Linked DNA regions of Homo sapiens: region 1 is linked to region 2. The links come from fine-mapping of genetic effects on gene expression. A gene starts in region 2. The other region holds a variant in brackets. All regions are shown on one strand. Distances are between the middles of the regions.

The links. PIP is the estimated chance that this variant, and not a neighbour inherited with it, causes the effect.
Region 1: its variant is the best candidate, but not a certain one, in a credible set for the expression of DPY19L4 in whole blood (INTERVAL, PIP 0.78).

What each region holds. Positions count from the first base shown.
Region 1 is chr8:94,748,424-94,753,803 of GRCh38, forward strand. The region is part of intron 6 of DPY19L4 (dpy-19 like 4); the gene reads left to right. Among named protein-coding and RNA genes, the nearest start is that of DPY19L4, 31 kb to the left of the region's middle. The variant G/A (reference allele first, on the strand shown) is at 3,108.
Region 2 is chr8:94,717,642-94,723,021 of GRCh38, forward strand. It overlaps DPY19L4 (dpy-19 like 4), which reads left to right and starts at 2,259. Exons shown (of 19, transcript NM_181787.3): 1 at 2,259-2,373. The coding sequence starts at 2,358. RefSeq lists an enhancer at 1,352-2,306 and a silencer at 2,067-2,386.

The sequences.
Region 1 (5,380 bases), 31 kb after region 2:
TTATGATATGTGAATTTCTTGTTTGTCTTTTAGAAAGTTACCTTTCAAAAAAATTTTTTGGGATAATATTATATGAAAATAGGTCATCTTTAGAACAGGGATTCCCAACTCCCAGGCCACAGACCAGTACCCATCAGAGGCCTGTTAGGAACCTGGCCTCACAGCAGGAGGTGAGTGGCAGCAGCAGCAGCAGTGACAATGATGATGATGATGACGATGATGATGATGATGACAACTGCAGATTTATCTGTATTTACTGCCACTCCCCATTGCTTGCATTACTGCCTGAGCTCCGCCTCCTGTCAGATCAGCAGAGGCATTATATTCTCATAGGAGCACGAACCCTATTGTGAACTGCGCATTTGAGGGATCTAGGTTGTGTGCTCCTTATGAGAATCTAACTAATGCCTGATGATCTGAGGTGGAACAATTTCATCCCCAAACCATCTCCCCAACTCCCCTGTATTAGTCTGTTTTCACACTGCTGATAAAGAAATACCTAAGACTGGGAAATTTACAAAAGAAAAAGGTTTAATGGACTCAGTTCCTTGTGGCTGGAGAGGCCTCACAATCATGGCAGAAGGTGAAAGGCACGTCTCACATGGTAGCAGACAAGAGAAGAGAGCTTATGCAGAGAAACTCCTCTTTATAAAACTATCAGATCTTGTGAGACTTATTCACTATCACGAGAATAGCACGGGAAAGACTTGCCCCCATGATTCAATTACCTCCCACTGGCTCCCTCCCACAACACTTGGGAATTGTGGGAGCTACATTCAAGATTAGATTTGGGTGGGAACACAGCCAAACCATATCACCCCACATCCACGGATTGTCTTCCAGAAAACCAGTCCCTGGTGCCAAAAAGGTTGGGGGCTGCTGCTTTAGAAGATGTTGGGCACGGGAGTTCAATGTTGCAAAGAAATCAACATTGAGACAAAGGTCCCTCAGCAAGGCTAGTTTACTTTCTGCAGAAAGGGTGTACTCGGCAGCAGTCCAGCCACGAGAGCACACTGAACAAAGGAGTGGAGGACATTTATAACCTTTACATCCTGATGCAACCCCCTAGAGCTGTGTCCTGTTCCCATTGACTGGGATGGGACCTCACACTCTAAACTTAACTCGATTGGCGAATAATTTAAAACTTTCCTAAATAGGGAGAAGGGAAAGAGGACAAAGAAAAGAGGAAGTTAGTGATAAGAGGTCAGAGGGGTTTCCAAATAAGGAATGGCATGCATCCTAATTTGGGACTCATTTAGCCTTATCTCAACCTACCAGAACAAGTTGGAGCAGCCTTGGAATATACACATACAAACATTTAACCAGGGAATGATAAACCCTTTATGGATTAAGAAACTTTGAAGAAGAACTTCTCTATTCCCTACAGAAGACATCATGTTCATTAAATGGTATTGGGACAACCAAATCTGGAAAATAAATCCTTATTGCACGTACATTAAGATAAATTTCAGATGGATTAATGAGCTTAAACAATGAAATCAATAATTACTATATAAAAATATTGGTTCATGTTTTTTGTTTGTTTGTTTTTGACCAAGTCTTGCTCTGTAACCCAGGCTGTAGTGCAGTGGTGCAATCTCAGTTCACTGCAACCTCTCCCTAGTGGGTTCAAGTGATTCTCATGCCTCAGCCTCTTGAGTAGCTGGGACTACAGCCGTGCACCACCACAGCCAGCTAATTTTTGTATTTTTAGTAGAGATGGGGTTTCATCATGTTGGCCAGGCTGGTCTTGGACTCCTGGCCTCAAGTGATCCACCTGCCTTGGCCTCCCAAAGTCACTGTGCCTCGCGTGGTTCATGTTTTAAAAAATTATTTGTCATAGACAAAGTTGGAAACAAAGTGTATAACAATAGGAAATTGGTTAGATTATAGTAGATCTACACGATGGTGTGTCATGGTCATTAACTGTTCTTGAAGTATGTTTATTGACGTGTATCTTGGAAAGATGTTCATAATATATTGTTAAGTAAAAAATAGTTTGTTAGAGAATTAGAAAAGAGCTAAGATTTGCTATAATACTGAATGTTTACTAGGTTCTAGGCACTGCTAACTTCCTTGCAGCTTTTGTTTCATTTGACTCTCACATGTGATCCTGTTTTTGCATATATATGTGTATCTGTGTGTGTGTGTGTGTATATATATGCAAACCTATCTTCTATGAATGTATATGTGAATAACTATTTTAATGCTTTTTTAACAGCTTTATTGAGGTATAATTGACATAGAATGAACTGGACATATTTAGAGTGTCCAATTTGATCAATTTAGGCATTTGAATATACCCACAAAATCATCAACACAATCAATATAATAAACATATCCATCACTACCCAAAATTTCCTTTTTTTTTTTTTTTGAGACAGGATCTCACTCTGTCACCCAGGCTGGAGTGCAGTGGCGCAATCTCGGCTCACTGCAACCTCCACCTCCCAGGTTCAAGCAATTCTCCTGCCTCAGCCTCCTGAGTAGCTGGGGTTATAGACGTGCCACCATGCCTGGCTAATTTTTATGTTTTTAGTAGAGACTGGGTTTCACCATGTTGGCCAGGCTGGTCTCAAACTCCTGACCTCAAGTGATCTGCCTGCCTCAGCCTCCCAAAGTGCCGGGATTACAGGCGTGAGCCACTAAGCCCAGTCTCCAAAATTTCCTTTCTAATACCTCCCTCTTTTCTTTCTTTTCTTTTTTTTTTTTTGAGACAGAGTCTCACTCTGTTGCCCAGGCTGGAGTGCAGTGGCGTGATCTCGGCTCACTGCAAGCTCCGCCTCCTGGGTTCACGCCATTCTCCTGCCTCAGCCTCCCGAGTAGCTGGGACTACAGGCGCCCGCCACCGCGCCTGGCTATTTTTTTGTATTTTTGGTAGAGACGGGGTTACACTATGTTGGCCAGGATGGTCTCGATCTCTTGACCTCATGATCCACCCGCCTCAGCCTCCCAAAGTGCTGGCATTATAGGCGTGAGCCACCACGCCCGGGACCTCCCTCTTTTCTTACCCAACCACCACTACTATGCTGTTGTTCCCAGGAAACCTGTGTCTGGTTTCTTATTTATTTATTTATTTATTTTTTGAGACTGAGTCTCACTCTGTC[G/A]CCCAAGCTGGAGTGCAGTGGCATGATCTCGGCTCACTGCAGCCTCTGCCTCCCGGGTTCAAGCACTTCCTGCCTCAGCCTCCCAAGTAGCTGCGATTACAGGTGCGCACCACCACGGCCAGCTGATTTTTGTATTTTTAGTAGAGATGGGGTTTCACCATGTTGCCCAGGCTGATCTCGAACTCCTGGGCTCAAACGATTCAGACGCCTCAGCCTCCCAAAGAGCTGGGATTACAGGTGTGAGCAAGCATGCCCAGCATAATTTGCTTTCAGTCTCTATAGATTAGTTTGTGTTTTCTAGAATTATATATTAATGGAGTCATACAGCATATACTTTTTGGTGGTGGGGCTCCGGCTTTTTTTACTCAGCATAATTTTGGTATTCATGTATGTTGTTTATATTAATAGTTCATTCTTTTTTATCACTAAGTTCTATTACATAGTATGGATATATCATAGTGCATTTATTCAGATACTGATGGACATTTGGGTAGTTTCCAGTTTTGTGGGGACATATGCTTTCATTTCTTTTGGGTAGAATGGCTAGGTCATATGGCTGGTGTATATTTAACTTTTAAGATACTGCCAAACTGTTTTCTAAAGTGATCGTACCATTCTATTTTTCTATCAAAATTGTGTGAGAGTTCCATGTCGTCTATATTCTTGTATTTCCCTGATGATTAATGATATTGGGTACCTTTTCATGTGTTTATTGGTCATTCAAGTATTTTGTGAAATGTCTAAGTATTTTGCCCATTTTAAAAGCTTAGATTGCTGGGGGCAGGGTCTCACGCCTGTAATCCCAGCACTTTGGGAGGCTTAGGCAGGCGGATCATGAGGTTAAGAGATCGAGGAGATCATCCTGGCCAACATGGTGAAACCCCCTCTCTACTAAAAATACAAAAATTATCCGGACATGGTGGCACGCGCCTGTAGTCCCAGCTACTCAGGAGGCTGAGGCAGGAGAATGGTGTGAACCCAGGAGGGGGAAGTTGCAGTGAGCCGAGATTGTGTCACTGCACTCCAGCCTGGGTGACAGAGTGAGACTCCATCTCAAAAAAAAAAAAAAAAAAAAAATAGAAACCTTGTAGCCCACAGCCTCGCTAAATTCATTTATTAGTTTTAGTATTTTTTTACGATTTTTTTTTTTGTGTGATGGAGTCTCGCTCTGTCACCCAGGCTGGAGTGCAGCGACGTGATCTTGGCTCACTGCAAGCTCCGCCACCCCGGTTCACGCCATTCTCCTGCCTCAGCCTCCGGAGTAGCTGGGACTACAGGCGGTCGCCACCATGCCCGGCTAATTTTTTTGTATTTTTAATAGAGACAGGGTTTCACCATGTTAGCCAGGATGGTCTCGATTTCCTGACCTCGTGATCCGCCCACCTCGGCCTCCCAAAGTGCTGGGATTACAGGCGTGAGCCACAGTGCCCGGCTTTTGAAGATTCTTGAGGGTTTTCTATGTACACAGTATCTTCTGCAAAAAAAAAAAAAAACCTGACAGTTTTACTTTCCTTTGCAACTTGATTCCTTGTGTTTCTTTTCCTTATCGTACTGTACTGGCTAAGCTATGGCAGAAAATTTAACAATGTTGGCCTCTGAATGGATGAGATTATAGGTGTTTTAAGATTTTTCTTCTTTTTGTTTGTATACATTTTCTAATATTTCTTTAACAAACATATACTGCTTTTATAATAAAATATTTTTCAAAAAAGAATAAGTATGAAGAAGGGAAAACATGCAAAATACATTTAAGTTTAAAAAGCAGAATGTAAATTAATTGAAGAGTTTTGATTCTGTAAAATATTTATATAAGGGATAAATACTTGAATGGATTATAGGGCAACGGAGATCCTTGATTTTTTATAATAGTGATTAGTATTGTTACACATATTGACAAGAACAAAAATATTTAAGTGTAATTATTTTTTACCCTGTTTTTATCTCTTTCTTCCTAGGAAATTCTTTTGTTTTTGCTTAGCTACTGAACTGTTGTGCTAAACAGAAAATGGTCAAAATATAATTTTGAAGACTCACAGAGAGGGCTGCAGATGACTTGACATAAGAAAGTGCGGTGGCTCAAGCCTGTAATCCCAACACTTTGGGAGGTCGAGGCAGGTGGATCACGAGGTCAGGAGTTGAAGACCAGCCTGGCCAACATAGTGAAACCTCATCTCTACTAAAAATACAAAAAATTAGCCAGGCGTGGTGGCAGGCACCTGTAGTCCCAGGTACTCAGGAGGCTGAGGCAGGAGAATCGCTTGAACCTTGGGAGG
Region 2 (5,380 bases):
ACTGGTTTGAGAATAAGATGCTCCACTCTCATTATCCTTATGTGTTTTTTGTTTGTTTGTTTTGTGTGATGGAGTTTCGCTCTTGTTGCCCAGGCTGGAATGCAATGGCATGATCTCGGCTCACCGCAACCTCCACCTCCCAGGTTCAAGCAATTCTCCTGCCTCAGCCTCCCGAGTAGCTGGGATTACAGGCATGCGCCACCACGCCCGGCTAATTTTGTATTTTTAGCAGAGATGGGGTTTCTCCATGTTGGTCAGGCTGGTCTCGAACTCCTGACCTCAGGTGATCCACCTGCCTCAGCCTCCCAAAGTGTTGGGATTACAGGCATGAGCCACCGTGCCCGGCCCTAATGTGGGTTTTTAGGGTTCAAGAGAAGAATGTTTCTACTAGGGCATAATTATCTCTATCTTATCTTATATTTCCATTTGTTATTTTAAGAAGCTATTTTTTTTCTATCATTTTTCTTTCCCCTGTTATTGTAGAGGTCAGGCAAACTTAAAATTTAGTCCATTAGTCAACTTGAGGTGACCGTGAAGAAACTGTAGGATATTAAGACTCTAGACTTAGAAAACAGCAGACCTCAATAGCTACTATATGTTTTCCAAGAGGTGCAGCTCTTTCAGTCAGCTGATCTGATAAGCAGCATACTCAGGTACTGTTGCTCATGTCCAGGGACCCTACCATATCCTGTGGTTTTCAGGGTCCTTATATTCTGTGCTCTCTTGGCTCTGGCACCAGGCCTTTTCTGGTCCACTGTTTCTAACTCCTGGTAAAGTGTTGTTTTAAGGCAAAAAACATCTTTACGGGGAACCAGACATAAAAAGAGTTCCTGGAGGCCCTGCGTGGTAGCTCATGCCTGTAATCCCAGCACTTTGTGGGGCTGAGGCCGGTGGATCACTTGAGGTCAGGATTTCAAGACCAGCCTGGGCAACATGGTGAAACCACACCCCTCCACTTCTCTACTAAAAGTACAAAAAATTATCCGGGCGTGGTGGTGGGCACCTGTAAACCCAGCACTTCGGGGGGCCAAGGTGGGCGGATCACTTGAGGCCAGGAGTTGGAGACTAGCCTGGCCAACCAACATGGTGAAATCCCATCTCTACTAAAAATATGAAAATTAAGTGGTGGCTTGCGCCTGTAGTCCCAGCTACTGGGAAGGCCGAGGCACGAAAATCGCTTTAACCTGGGAGGCGGAGGTTGCAGTGAACCTAGATCGAGTCATTGCATTCCAGCCTGGGCGACAGAGCGAGACTCTGTCTCAAAAAAAAAAAAAAAAAGTTCCTGGAACCGTTTCTGCACATCACTGAAAAATGATAGCCTCTCCCCAAATATCCTAACTTAAAGGTGCTATTAGGAGAATCTTGCTGCCTGCTAATAATGGGGTGTCCATAATTACCCCATGACTTCAGTGAATTCTCGTGCCTGTTTCTCCCGATCTAAAATGGGTATATTTCATTTACTAAATTTACTTCTGAGTACTGTTGGGGAAAAGATCCCGGTGTTTGTTGAAGAATGCTAGATATAATGAAAGTTAAACACAGTTTAACAAATTAAAATTATTCCCTATTGCTCTGTAATATCTAATTGCACACTGCTCTACCCCAGACCATTGTATTATCTCCCCGCCCCCCCCCCCAGAATATCATGAAATGCAACATATTTGCTAAACCAGTTTTGGTGATTTAAAACAAGTTCCAAGCACAAGCTTCTTTCTTGTAATGGTCAAGTGGCCTACGAAACCAAAGCGCCAACTGAGAACGTTTTGCTGCTGCACTCTGAAATCCCAGCGAGAACGCAGGCAGCGATGGCAGTTCTGGAGCACCGGGTTCCACTTCTGCCTCTGACCGGCTTTGTGACTTCCACCACATTAGATCTGAGTTTCCTCCATGTAAAATGGGGCGGGAATGGAGGCTGGACCTGGGAGGTGTCGCTGATGATCGTCTCTGACTCGCTAAGTCGCGGAGTCACAAAAGTGGCGGAAAGCATGCCCTCACTTTTTGGGAAGAGTAGGACGAGGGGCGGGGCTGCAGCGAGACCCACCAGTCTCGCTTTCCAGGGCAGGCGGCGGCCAGGAGCTACAGCTGTGGGCTGCACTCCCGGCGTGGAGTCTCCTTCCTGCCCGCGCAGGCCCCGGCGCCCCAGCGAAACGCTCCGGCCGCTCCCCTCTCCCAACACTCTGGTTCCCGGGCCGCCTGCGGGGACGCGGTTGGCGGCGACACCGGAGGGGGGTGGGTCAGGAAGTGGGGGCGCGGCGGCCAGGAGCGGGCCCCCGGAGGCCGAGGGGTTCGGCGACGCGGAGGGAGGGAGAGTCTGGGCCGCGCGGGAGCCGCAGGGCGCCCTAGCCTTCGCAGAAACGATGGCGGAGGAAGAAGGTGATTGCCGCGGGGTCCAGCGCGCCAACGGCTGCCAGTGGTCTCGGGAAGGAGGGGCGGGGGCGCTGGAGGTCTGGGTTGGAGCTGCTGGTGGCCGCGGTCGCGGTGGCGGCCGCGCGGGCAGGGCGGGAAGGAGCGCGGCGCCCAGGAGAGGACTGCGGAGAAATTCAGGAGAGCGGAGCAAATGGCCCGAAGTTTTGTCGGCCGAATTGGGAAGCAAAGGTGGAGCTGAAAGTTGGGAATCCGTAGCAAGAGAGAAAGCTGTGCCGGGAGTGGTTGGGAAAGAGGGAGGGTCCTGATCAGATTCTTGGTGAAGTGGGAGGCGCAGTTTGGTTTCGAAGATCAGGTTTAGGTACTCAGTGCATATTTGGAATGCGATTTTTAAAGGGCTGTGGATATTGACAAACCCAGAGGCACAGGGGGCGAGGGAACATTCACCACGGGGATAAAGAGGCAGGGATTTGGGATAAACGTGGCAAGATTAATTGGGAATGGGCGAACACGCAGAAACTGAAGAAAGCCAAGTTCACTTAGGTTCAGGGGAAAATGGTAAAGAGCAGAGCCATCTAATTATTATAGTTTTGGGAGATGATGAGGCCAGGAGGCCTTTGAGGGTCAAAGTGGGTGAGCTGGAGAAAGGTTTCCATGCCGCCTTCAGGATCAATGCTAAGATAAGTAATTCATTCAGCAGTATTTTATTTATAGAAAATGATAAGTATGAGACAAAAATGGGAAGTTAGATGAAACTTATCGGTTAGTGATAAACAATACAAGGAATACTCATGGCATAGTAACTTCATGATAACCCCTACTAGTTTCAGGAAGTGAGAAGCAATTAGATTTTTGCATTCTGGTGGAAAACACAACTTTTTACCTTATGAGTGGAGCTGTGGATGTGATAGTAAATCGATCTAATTTAGACTCAAGCCCCCCTGCCTTTTTTTTTTTTGAAACGGAGTTTCGTTCTTGTTGCCCAGTCTAGAGTGCAAAGGCGCGATCTCGGTTCACCGCAACCTCCGCTTCCTGGATTCAAGCGATTCTCCTGCCTCAGCCTCCCTAGTAGCTGGGATTACAGGCATGCGCCATCACGCCCGGTTAATGTTATATTTTGAGTAGAGACGGGGTTTCTCCATGTTGGTCAGGCTGGTCTTGAACTTCTGACCTCAGGTGATCCGCCCACCTCGGCCTCCCAGAGTGCTGGGATTACAGGCGTGAGCCACGGGTCCAGCCGACTCAAGCCTTTCTGAATCAAGAGTGCAAGGAAGGAGTTTAAAGGATTCAGCGGAAAGCAATTTTTAAAAATTAAGCATAAGAAGTGTTTACTGATGTGTGACTTGCTGACCTGTCCCTATGCAGGCTTGGTTCATATTTGTTTCCATTGAGTTTTCAGAGTGTTAAAGCTGGTCTGAATTTAAGACATTCTAACTAAAAACAGCTTCAAAAACAAAGCTATTTGTCGTTGGTGAGAAAGAATGTAATTCCATTTGTTTACTTGGTTCTGTCTGTGGTTACAGTATATCATCATTTGAAATATTTCTTGATGTATTTTTCTTTTCTAATTGCAAATTTATGGGGGTAGGTTGATATACTAGCTTGTAGGTTCCTATGAGTACATTCATGCTTAACTTAAAGCATTAAAAAAGTTAAGACTGCATTAAAAAATCAGTACTACAATACTGAAAGTCTTTAATACATCATGCAAAATGAAAAATTATTTTAGACTATGGTTGTACTTAAATAGATCTGTGGAGCCAATATTAAAAGATTGTACCGTTTTGTAAATTTTACTTACGTGATGTAAAATGATAAATGGGCGGGGCATGATGGCTCATGCCTGTAGTCCCAGCACTTTGGGAGGCCAAGGCGAGTGGATCACTTGAAGTCAGAAGTTCGAGACCAGCCTGGCTAACACAGTGAAACCCCATCTCTACTAAAAATACAAAAATCAGCCGGGTGGAGTGGCAAGTGTCTGTAGTCCCAGCTACTCAGGAGGCTGAGATAGGAGAATCACTTGAACCCGGGAGGCGGAGGTTGCAGTGAGCCAAGATTGCACCATTGCACTCCAGCCTGGGTGACAGAGTGAGACTCCATCTAAAAAAAAATAAAATTAAGGCCGGGCAAGGTGGCTCACGCCTGTAATCCTAACACTTTGGGAGGCCAAGGTGGGCGGATCACGAGGTCAGGAGTTCGAGACCAGCCTGGCCAATATGGTGAAACCCTGTCTCTACTAAAAAATACAAAAGTTAGCCGGGCATGGTGGCGCATGCCTATAGTCCCAGCTACCCGGGAGGCTGAGGCAAGAGAATCGATGGAACCCAGGAGGCCGAGGTTGCAGTGAGACGAGATCGCCCCACTGCACTCCAGCCTGGGTGACAGAGTGAGACTCCCTCTCAAAAATAAAATAAATAAAATGATAAATGATTTTTGGTTGTAGAATTACATATAATTCAAAAGCAGTTAAATACATCTTACATGGGACAATTAATGGGTTGTAATTTATTAAAATATTGCTTTATTCAACACATTTCTAATTCCATAAATATGTGTATTCATACCCTATTAGATGCAAGGATATAATAGTCAACAATGAATGAGTAAATTTTCATTTATTATAATGCTAGTAATAATAATACATATAGCAAACCTGTCTGTCTATGTGCCAGGCATTCTGAGTGTTTTATGTTTATTTGTCACTCTATACTTTTTTTCCCCCAGAATCCGTATTATCTTTTGTTCGCTGTGTTAAAATTAGACTAAATAGTCTGTGTATTTTACTTGTATCCAGGTGTTCTCCGCGTCCCATCTTGCTTACCATTCACATTCACTTGGATCCTCTTCATTGTCCAAGTAAATACTCTGGGAATCTGGTCTTTAAAAAAATGTCTTCCTTGATGCAGTAGAGGGCCAGGGTGTTTATATTTATGCTTTCTGAACGCAATGTTAGAGCAAAGAAAGAAGTGACAACCTTGAGTAGAGCAGTATTAACATTTCACTTGGAAACTGCTAT